Linked DNA regions of Homo sapiens: all the other regions are linked to region 3. The links come from fine-mapping of genetic effects on gene expression. A gene starts in region 3. Each other region holds a variant in brackets. All regions are shown on one strand. Distances are from middle to middle.

The links. PIP is the estimated chance that this variant, and not a neighbour inherited with it, causes the effect.
Region 1: its variant is fine-mapped to the expression of BMPR2 in whole blood (INTERVAL, PIP above 0.99).
Region 2: its variant is fine-mapped to the expression of BMPR2 in whole blood (INTERVAL, PIP above 0.99).
Region 4: its variant is fine-mapped to the expression of BMPR2 in whole blood (INTERVAL, PIP above 0.99).

What each region holds. Positions count from the first base shown.
Region 1 is chr2:202,532,799-202,535,455 of GRCh38, reverse strand. All of the region lies in intron 9 of BMPR2 (bone morphogenetic protein receptor type 2), which reads right to left. Among named protein-coding and RNA genes, the nearest start is that of FAM117B, 100 kb to the left of the region's middle. RefSeq lists an enhancer at 245-1,243. The variant C/T (reference allele first, on the strand shown) is at 1,235.
Region 2 is chr2:202,519,092-202,521,777 of GRCh38, reverse strand. BMPR2 (bone morphogenetic protein receptor type 2) reads right to left here. Exons shown (of 13, transcript NM_001204.7): 7 at 1,577-1,691. It also overlaps the pseudogene RPL13AP12. Among named protein-coding and RNA genes, the nearest start is that of FAM117B, 110 kb to the left of the region's middle. The variant G/AG (reference allele first, on the strand shown) is at 1,725.
Region 3 is chr2:202,375,003-202,377,679 of GRCh38, reverse strand. BMPR2 (bone morphogenetic protein receptor type 2) reads right to left here and starts at 1,353. Exons shown (of 13, transcript NM_001204.7): 1 at 130-1,353. The coding sequence starts at 205. RefSeq lists enhancers at 1-5, 8-791, 1,946-2,235, 2,346-2,505 and silencers at 846-905, 976-1,035, 1,166-1,655, 1,806-1,855.
Region 4 is chr2:202,509,527-202,512,212 of GRCh38, reverse strand. The region is part of intron 3 of BMPR2 (bone morphogenetic protein receptor type 2); the gene reads right to left. Among named protein-coding and RNA genes, the nearest start is that of FAM117B, 120 kb to the left of the region's middle. The variant AC/C (reference allele first, on the strand shown) is at 1,230.

The sequences.
Region 1 (2,657 bases), 160 kb before region 3:
CCGCCGCCCCGTCTGGGATGTGAGGAGCGCCTCTGCCCAGCCGAGACCCCGTCTGGGAGGTGAGGAGCGTCTCTGCCCGGCCGCCCCGTCTGAGAAGTGAGGAGACCCTCTGCCTGGCAACCGCCCCGTCTGAGAAGTGAGGAGCCCCTCCGCCCGGCAGCCGCCCCGTCTGAGAAGTGAGGAGCCTCTCCGCCCAGCAGCCGCTCCGTCTGGGAAGTGAGGAGTGTCTCCGCCCGGCAGCCACCCCGTCCGGGAGGGAGGTGGGGGGGGTCAGCCCCCCGCCAGGCCAGCCGCCCCATCCGGGAGGGAGGTGGGGGGGTCAGCCCCCCGCCCGGCCAGCCGCCCCGTCCGGGAGGGAGGTGGGGGGGTCAGCCCCCAGCCAGGCCAGCCGACCTGTCCGGGAGGGAGGTGGGGGGGTCAGCCACCCGCCCGGCCAGCCGACCCGTCCGGGAGGGAGGTGGCAGGGGGTCAGCCACCCGCCCGGCCAGGAGGTGGGGGGGGTCAGCCCCCCGCCCGGCCAGCCGCCCCGTCCGGGAGGGAGGTGGGGGGGTCAGCCCCCCGCCCGGCCAGCCGCCCCGTCCGGGAGGGAGGTGGGGGGGTCAGCCCCCCGCCTGGCCAGCCGCCCCGTCCGGGAGGTGAGGAGCCTCTCTGCCCGGCCACCACCCCGTCTGGGAGGTGTGCCCAACAGCTCATTGAGAACGGGCCAGGATGACAATGGCGGCTTTGTGGAATAGAAAGGCGGGAAAGGTGGGGAAAAGATTGAGAAATCAGATGGTTGCCGTGTCTGTGTAGAAAGAAGTAGACATGGGAGACTTTCCATTTTGTTCTGTACTAAGAAAACTTCTTCTGCCTTGGGATCCTGTTGATCTGTGACCTTGCCCCCAACCCTGTGCTCTCTGAAACATGTGCTGTGTCCCACTCAGGGTTAAATGGATTAAGGGCGGTGCAAGATGTGCTTTGTTAAACAGATGCTTGAAGGCAGCATGCTCGTTAAGAGTCATCACCACTCCCTAATCTCAAGTACCCAGGGACACAAACACTGCGGAAGGCCGCAGGGTCCTCTGCCTAGGAAAACCAGAGACCTTTGTTCACTTGTTTATCTGCTGACCTTCCCTCCACTATTGTCCTATGACCCAGCCAAATCCCCCTCTGTGAGAAACACCCAAGAATTATCAATAAAAAATAAATAAATAAATAAATAAATAAATAAAAATTTTATTTATATATATATATA[C/T]ACACACACACGATACATATATATGTGTGTGTGTGTGTATATATATATACACACACTTGATATATATAAACTAATGTGTAATGCCTAATGTCTTTAAAGCCAAACAATTCAACTCCATTATTAATCTTTTTAAATTAAATAGCTCTATTTCATAAATTTGTCCAATGCTAGTTCCTTTTTCTATGCTTTTAATGGTGTTACTCCTAAAAGACAGTGGCCACACAGATCAAATCATCTGTATAGCACCTAGAAGAATGCAATGCCAGATTTATAGTTAAAGTTTTTAGATGATACTACAACGATGTAATCCCTAAGAAGGGAAAACTATAAATTCATTTGGCTATTTCAAGTAAGCCTCAAACAAACATTCACTTAAATGAGTATTCTTTCCCTTTTTTTGAGACGGAGTCTTGCTCTGTTACCCAGGCTGGAGAGCCATGGCGTGATCTCAGCTCACTGCAACCTCCGCCTACTGGGTTCAAGCAATTCCTCTGCCCCAGCCTCCCGAGTAGCTGGGACTACAGGTGCTCGCCACCACGCCTGGCTAATTTTTGTATTATTAGTAGACATGGGGTTTCACCATATTGGCCAGGCTGGTCTCGAACTTCTGACCTCATGATCCGCCTGCCTTGGCCTCCCAAAGTGCTGGGATTACAGGTGTAAGCCACCGCGCCAGGCCTTTTTTTATTTTTTTGAGACAGAGTTTTGCTCTTGTTGCCCAGGCTGGGGTGCAACGGCAAGATCTTGGCTCACTGCAACCTCTGCCTCCCGGGTTCAAGCAATTCTCCTATCTCAGCCTCCTGAGCAGCTGGGATTACAGGTGCATATTATTAGTAGAAACGGGGTTTCACCATATTGGTCAGGTTGGTCTCGAACTCCTGACCTCAGGTGATCCGCAAGCCTCGGCCTCACAAAGTGCTGGGATTATAGGCATGAGCCACCGCACCTGGCCAATGAGTATTCTTTCATTGAAAGGAAGGAAGAAGAGAAAAGAGGAGGAAGGGAAGGAGATAAGGTGAGAGAAGAGGAAGGAAGGAAGAAAGAAGGAAAGAAGGAAGGAGGGAGAAAGGGAGCATGAAAAAAAAAGAAAAGGAAAAAGTGTTTACAAATAATTCATTGCTTCTAATTCCTTCTGGGTTCAACTCAGTAAACATCGTAAGTGTACCTTGTCTCAAACACTCAGATGGTGCATAAGGAAAATGTTTACTGCTAAAGCAATCAGAGACCAAACAAAATACAGTTAGATAAGCTATTACTGGCAATTAATTAAATTTCACTCAGATGAAAACCTGGAGTACTCTAAAAAAAAAAATTCCTAATTTGCATCCTGCTGCTAATAATGTTTCTAAACACTAGATAGCAATGAACTAAAGGTTTAAATGAAAGTAAAAAGATTCTTACATAAAAGTTGAGTTAGGTACTA
Region 2 (2,686 bases), 140 kb before region 3:
GTAATCCCTTGGTTGCATATCTTCCTAGCCTACACATCCATAAATACCCTGTACAACACCAGGCTCATACTGTCCCCACAGGCATTTTCTCACATCCTAACAGCTGCAGAGTACAGTATATGACAAGGTAGGAAATACAAACAGATTCCCCATTCACAAGGTAGGGAAACTCTTCAATTAGTGTTCCAGTTCACATTTGCTTTTTTTTTTTTTCTGAGACAGTCTAGCTGTCAGCCAGGCTGGAATACAGTGGTGTGATTTCAGCTAACTAGAACCTTCACCTCCCAGGCTCAAACAATCCTCCCAGCTCAGCCTCCCAAGTAGCTGCGACTACAGGTGCATGCCACCACGTCCAGCTAATGTTTATATTTTTTGTAGAGACAGGGTTTCACCATGTTACCCAGGCTGGTCTCAAACTCCCGAGCTCAAGCAATCCACCTGCCTTGGTCTCCCAAAGTGTCAGAGTTACAGGCATGAGCCATCAATCACGCCCGGGCTGCCAATATTCCAACTGAAGTAGCAGGTTGTTTTTACTAATGATTTTATGAAACTCTCTTGCAAACAAGTACATCATAGACAAATTATGTCTGCACAACTTTTAGAGTTGTTTAAAGTAACCTAATAGAAAGACAGTGACTAAGATTCATTCCTTATCTCCAGCTTTGTAAGTCCCAGGCTGCCTAGAGCACCTGGACTGCTGCCCCTGGGTCCCCTACATCCCCATGGCAACAATGGAGGAAGAGCAGGCCAGGACAAGCATGAGGAATAAACAGTCTTTATTGGACTCAGACTAGGAGTCTGTGGGCCTTGAGGACCTTCGTGTATTTGTCAATGTTCTTCTCTATGTTCTTTTCAGCCTTTTCCTATAGCCTCATGAGCTGTTTTTCTTCTGGTAACAGATCTTCTGATAATAGACCTTCCTCTTCTCCCCCATGGTGGCTGTCATTGCCTGGTATTTCCAGTCAACCTTCTGAGCCCAGTGCCCCAGGTAGGCAAACTTTCTTCAAGGCTTCGGACGTACAACCTCGAGGGTGGCAGAAACCGCCATCTGCTTTTTCTTGTCATATGGCAGGGGGATTCTATCAAACACCTTGAGGTGATCTAGGGCAGCCTAGCCTTGCTTGGTCTTGTGGGGCAGCCTACCGCAGGTGGTCTGCCAAAAGATGTGGCTGGGGACCCATAAATGGTAGGGTCCTTGGGAAGGGTTGGTGCTTGTCCGCTTGCAGAGGAAGGCTAGATACTTTAACTTGTTTCTGTAGAAACTGCCAGAAATGTTGATGTCCTCACAGGACATGACCACTACTTTCTCTGCTGGGTCATGATAGCCTCCAGGTAGCCCAGGAGTTTTACTCAGCTATCAAGCACCAGGACTGCCCCTCTGCCATCTTGGCAGCTGCGTGGGAAAGCTCTTTCTGTTACATTTCAAATGCATTTCATGCTGAATCTTTCAAACAACTGACTAATAATAAATCTCCAATAATATAAATTATACTTTTACTTTGAAGATATAATTAAAATTTCCTGTTGTGAATTTTGAACCCACATGAGTGTCAATTTCATCTATTGACTATCTTACCTCCTCGTGGTAATTCTGTGTGAAGATAAGCCAGTCCTCTAGTAACAGAATGAGCAAGACGGCAAGAGCTTACCCAGTCACTTGTGTGGAGACTTAAATACTTGCATAAAGATCCCTATATAGAGGAAAAAATGCGAAAAAAAAAAAA[G/AG]GTAGAATTAACTCACTTTAACATGAAGAGTAAATTAGCATCCTTATAAAGAATTTGCAAATAGGCTAGGATTCCATGAAGATCTAATGAACTACTACATTTCAGAATCTTGAAAGAGTTAGTATGACATTTCTGTGTGTAGAGAGGAGAGGAAGGGATGGAAAGGGGAATTTAAACATTATAAATTTTTATGTCTCTAATATTAAAAATTATGAATGATTATTTCCTTTTAAACAATTCTTTGATCAAATTAAGATAGAAAAGTGTATCATTCACCAGTATGAATACAAATTATATTGTTATGGTTAATAAGTAGAAAACAAAAGGATTTTGTAAATATATTCATTTATGTATTGGTGCCACTCAAAGTGCTTATCTACAAACTATTACCAGTTGCTGATGAGAAAAGAATGTTGCATCAGAATGAATGTCAATCAAAGTACTGCTTCTTTCATCAAAAAACTTGTTATCAAAAAATTAAATAAAGAAGAGAAAAACAGAAAGAAGGAGGAGACAGCGAAACAAACAGTATAATTAGTTGATTCACATTCTGGTGTGAGATCCTTATTTCATTGCAGACCATTAATAATCCAGTTTGTGAGTCAGCAATGCTCTATCTGTAATACAGTGGTCCTCTCTGAAGTCTGATTAACAACTAATATAAATGTCAGTTTATTTTTTTTTATTTTTTGAGATTGCGTCTTGCTCTGTCGCCCAGGCTGGAGTACGGCTGTACAATCTCGGCTCCCTGCAACCTCCGCCTACCGGGTTCAAGCAATTCTCATGCCTCAGCCTCCCAAGTAGCTGGAATTACAGATGTGTGCCATCATACCCGGCTAATTTTTGTATTTTTAGTAGAGACGGGAGTTTTGCCATGTTGGCGAGGCTGGTCCTGAACTCTTGGCCTCAAGTGATCCACCTGCCTTAGCCTCCAAAAGTGCTGGGATTACAGGCATAAGCCA
Region 3 (2,677 bases):
CGCAGCTCCGCTGCACCGCGATCGGGGGGACGCATGGCGAAGGGCAAGCACAGGCCTCGGCCTCTGCGGGCTCCCTCCCTCGCCACCCGCAGGGGCAGTGGCCGGGACGTGCCGGCCGGAGCTACTCACCAGCCGCAGTGCTGACCAGCAGGATGGTCCATGGTAGCCAGGGCACCCGCCAGGGCCGCTGCAGCGAGGAAGTCATCCCTGGGCCAGCCAAGAATCAGGAGGGCAAAGAAAAGAAATATGGGAAGTAGACCGGCGGAGAAACAGCCGGGAGGCTCGTCTTCTCTCCCGTGGACTGATCCTGCCCGTATCACAATACAGTTTGAAAGGACAAATGGCTGATGAGAGGACCTAGCTGCAGAGCTTTCATGCCGCTGCAGAAATTCCCTTCATTTCTCTCCCTCGCGGCTGGGGGGGTTCCTTCGCCTCGGACGGGGTGCCGCGGCCCTCCAAACGGAAGGCATGTCTGTGGGGAAAGCAGGGAGCCAAGAAGAAATCCCCCAAATTATTTCCCTCGTAGTTTCACGATATCAAAAAAATATCCAGGTCTGGGAGAAAACATATCCAGGGTGCGGAGGGCGGGGATTCGATCCGGGGTCGGGGGGCGAGGGTCAGAACTAGTTCCCGACTGCCGGGAAGGACGAAGCCGGACGGGCGGCGGCGGCGCCCGGCAGCCCTAGTCGCATCGCCCGCGGCTCCGGGAAGGCAGGATTCCTTAAGTTTCGCTTCGGTGCTTCCTTCACTCTGATTTCGAAAACAACAAATCCTCTTCCTTGACTGGATCAAAAAAGGTGCCTGCCTCCATGGACAAGCTCACAGTCCCCACGCCTTCGCAGAACAACCGTGAGAGGGTTGGGGAGGCCCTGGCGAAGGCTGAGGAGAGGTAGGAGCGGGGGAGGGGAGGGGTCGCGGTCGCGGCCCCGGTCCGGGCTCCCCGAGACGGCAGGCGGAGTGGGTGTGAGAGGCTGCCCCTTCTAGTCCTCCCGGCGGCGCTCCCTTCCCTTCCTCGCTTTTTATTCCTGCGGCTCGATCTTGCCTGAGGTAAATTCCACCAAGAAAGCCTCCTCTTCTCCCGTCAATGGCTCCTGTGAGCGAATCACAACCCCCCGAGGAAGCCGCTGCTGCTGCCGCCGCCGCCGCCGCCGCCGCCGCCGCCGCCGCCTCGTTCTCCCGCAGCTCTGGGCTCCTGACGGAACTCGGGCGTCGCGGACCGAGGGCGGGGGGCGGCGGGAGGGCGGATGAAGGTAGCCGGGGAAGGGGGTGGGCAGGGAGGCGGCGAGACACCCTGCGTCCCTCCGGGAGGCACTTCCAGTGGCTCCGAGCAGACCAGACACAAAGGGGGGAGTCGCCGCAGCTGCCAGTCTGCGGCGCTCCCGGTCACCGGAGTCGCCCCGCCTCCGCCGCCGCCTCCGCCTCCTCCTCAGTCTCCGGCTCTTCCCGGCCCTGTCTGTCTCTAGCCTGTGGTGCAGAGCGGGCGGCGGCGGCGGCGGCGCCGGCGGCGGGATGAAGCCCGCACTGCGCCTGCGCGCTCACGGCCCCGCCCGGCCCCGCCCCTCGTTCGGGGCTGGCTGAGGGCTCCGAGGCCCCACCGCAGCGCGTCTCTCCGGTGAATGGCCGAGGGCTGGGTGGGGCTGCGGTGGGCAGCGGTGGCCTTTCTCCTTCACACACATACACATGCCTTCCAAATGTGCATGGCTTGGGATTCGCGTATTTGTTTAAGAGACGACGGCCACATCCTTTTGTTCGGCGTTCAGCAGACTCCTCCGAGTTCCGGGATTTCTCCCGACTGAGGCGTCTCCGTCTCAGTACTCTCGGAGGAAAGCCTCGAGGGGCAGAACTGCCCTCTGTTGTTTCACGGGGCTGGAACCTCCCTCTCCGCAGCCCAAAGAATCCGGATGGACCCGCCTTTCCCAGAACCGGAGACCTTGGCCTCCTCAGGCTCCCCTCTGACTCAAACAAAAGCCGGAATTGGAAAGACCACCCCTTTGATGTGTTCGCTGTAATCGACGTCCTGCTTTCCTCAACCGCCCATTCCCTTAGCCTTCTTAGTTGACAGGAATATTGAGTATTTGCAAGGATGCGAAGCCAGAAAAAAAAAAAAGACTTTTAATTCTATAAATCGTCCCGCTGCGTGCGCGCGTCTGTCCGTACAGCGCGGTGCCCACCCCGAGAGAGGGCCTGGATTCACCAAGGCTGGGGGCCTTGAGGGCTTTTTAGGGCACGTGAAAGGAAAATGGAGTTAGAGTTGTGTCGGGATAGAGAGTGGGATCATTTTGCACTCAAGGAATTGAGAAGATCCCGTTGGTACCGCAGTTTCCAAGGATTTGTGTAGTGCGTTTTTTGGATCTGGTTTGTACAAGCGACCAGTATAGGAGACGGGATCCCTCCCGCCCTTACACCCCGCTGCGGGGTCAGCCGACGTGGGTGGGATTTTGCTGGCGGCGAGGGGAGAAGGTGACGTGCGTGGCGCCATGATCGGAAGTCTGGACTGAATTCTTAGCTGCGAGGTGGAAAATGCGCGTGGGAGGGCGATCTTGAGGGGTGAAGTCTGGCCTTCCCATCTCCTACCAGGCAGGAGGGTTATGCTGAAGGCTGGTTTTGCTGGTCTTTCATTGTGGCTAAGGGCAGTTCCACAGATACAGTCATAGATAGACTCCTTAAGTCATGCTCT
Region 4 (2,686 bases), 130 kb before region 3:
CGGCAAAGAGTTCCTCTAATGGGCATTCCTGTTTTAATGAATTTATTTGTCTCAATCAAATTAAGTAGAAGTTGCTTATTAAAATGTCTAAACTATATTTCTATAGAAGGATATGTTGAAACAACACTGAAATACTCTTAATTTGCAGACCATTTATTATATTTTCTTTTTTCTTTCTTTCTTTTTTTTTTTTTAAGAGAGTCTTGCTCTGTCGCCCAGGCTGGAGCTCAGTGGTGCAATCTCAGCTCACTGCAAACTCCACATCCCAGACTCAAGCAATTCTTGTGCCTCAGCCTCCTGAGTTGCTGGGATTATAGGTTTGTAGCACCACACCTGGATAATTTTTTGTATTTTTAGTAGAGATGGGGTTTCACCATGTTAACCAGATCGGTCTTGAACTCCTGGCCTCAAGTTGATGTGCCCACTTTGGCCTCCCAAAGTGCTGGGATTACAGGTGTGAGTCACTGTGCCCAGCCCATTTTTCAGATATTAATAGATTTTAACACATTGATCATTGTGCCTCCTTTTAACATACAGAGTAAGTTACAGGCAGAAAAGCTACATATAAAACTCATTTTACCACAGTGAGATATTATTTCACATACATTGGCATGGCTACAATTAAAAAAAAAGAAAATAAAAAGCGCTGGCAAGGATGTGGATAAATTATAACTCTTGTACATTGCAAGTGGGATATGAAATGGTAAGTATACAGTAGAAAACAGTTTGTGAGTTCCTCAAAAAGTTAAACATGGAATTACCATAAGACCCAGCAATTCCAATCCTAGGCATATATCAGAAAGAACCAAAAACAAGTGTTCAAACAAAAACTTCTACATGCATGTTCACAGCATCACTATTTACAACACCCGAAAGTGGAAACAACACAAATGTTCATGAACTGATGAATGGATAAACAAAATGTGGTATATTCCTACAAAGGATTTACAAAAGGTTGAATATTCTATGATTCCATTGAAATGAAATACTCAGAATAGGCCAAATTCATAGACAGAAAGCAGGTTAGTAGTTGCCAGGGACTGGGAGAGGAAGAAATAGGGAGTGACTGCTTATTAGATACAGGGTTTCCCTTGTGGGGTGATGAAAATGTTTTGGAACTAGACAGAGGTAATAGTTGCACAACACTATGAATGTGTTGAGTGGTACATTTTAATATGACTAATTCTAAGTTATGTGAATTTTACTTCAATCAAAAAAAAAAAAAAAAA[AC/C]TAAAGCCAGGTGCGGTGGCTCACTCCTGTCATCCCAACACGTTGGGAGGCTGAGGCAGACGGATCACAAGGTCAGGGGTTTGAGACCAGCCTGACCAACATGGTGAAACCACAGCTCTACTAAAAAGACAAAAATTAGCTGGGCATGGTGGCGCTTGCCTGTAATCCCAGCTACTCAGGAGGCTCAGGCAGGAGAATCACTTGAACCCAGGAGGCAGAGATTGTAGTGAGCCAAGATCATGCCATTGCACTCCAGCCTGGGTGAGAAAGCAAGACTCCGTCTCAAAAGCAAACAAACAAATAAACAAAAAAAAACAAAAAAAACCTCATTTTAGAATTTGCTAAACCTAAAAGATAAACTATTTTCAATACATACACATACACACACACAAAACTAAATAATTTATAGATTCATGACTATACAAGGATATTTTATGTGCCTATAGTTTTTCCTTTCCAGAAAGTCATATAGTTGGAATGATACAATATACAGACTTTTCAGACTGCCTTCTTTCACTTAGCAATATGTACTTTAGGTTCCTCCATGTCTTTTTGTGGCTTAGCAGTTCATTTCCTTTTATCACTGAATATTATCCATGTCACAGATGTACGATCTCAGCTCACTGCAACCTCCGCCACCTGGGTTCAAGTGATTTTTCTGCCTCAGACTCCTAAGTAGCGGGATTACAGGCACGCGCCACCACACCCAGCTAATTTTTGTATTTTTTAGTACAGACAGGGTTTCACCATGTTGGTCAGGCTGGTCTCGAACTCCTGACCTCGTGATCTGCCCACCTTGGCCTCCCAAAGTGCTGGGATTATAGGCATAAGCCACCGCGCCCAGCCAAAAACTGGTATTTCTTTAAATATTTGTTACAATAAAAAAATTCGTAGTCTAACGTGAAACAAAGTTTTGCCACATCCAAATGAGAAACACTGAATATTTAAATGTGTTCTTACATTCTTGTGTAATTCAAGTAAATATGAGTTAATAAAGATTATCTTGTCTTCTGTATAAAAAATAAAATTAAATATTAAATGTAATATTAATATGGCATTACAGATAAAACTGTCTCTGGAAATGAGTTAAGATATCCAATGTTATAATTCCCAAAAGAACTGAACCATATTACTTATTTGAAAAATGTATTTTGAATTCAACTAGGAATGAGAAGTGATAAGGAATCTAATTTTATTTTTTAAAAATCTAATTTTTAATTCTTAAATATGTGGACATGTTTAAATTTCAGTATTGAAAATTTAGATTAATGTTATTTAAAGGACATTACCAATTAAATAAAATATTAAAATTTTAATGTAACAAAGGTTAGATTTTGGAAAAACCTGAAAAACCAAAAGTTGTACATAAAAAGCACAGAATTAGTACATTTGAAAATTTAATAATAAAGATTTTTCCACTAAGATTTAGCTTTCTAGGCTTTTTTTTGCTTTTACT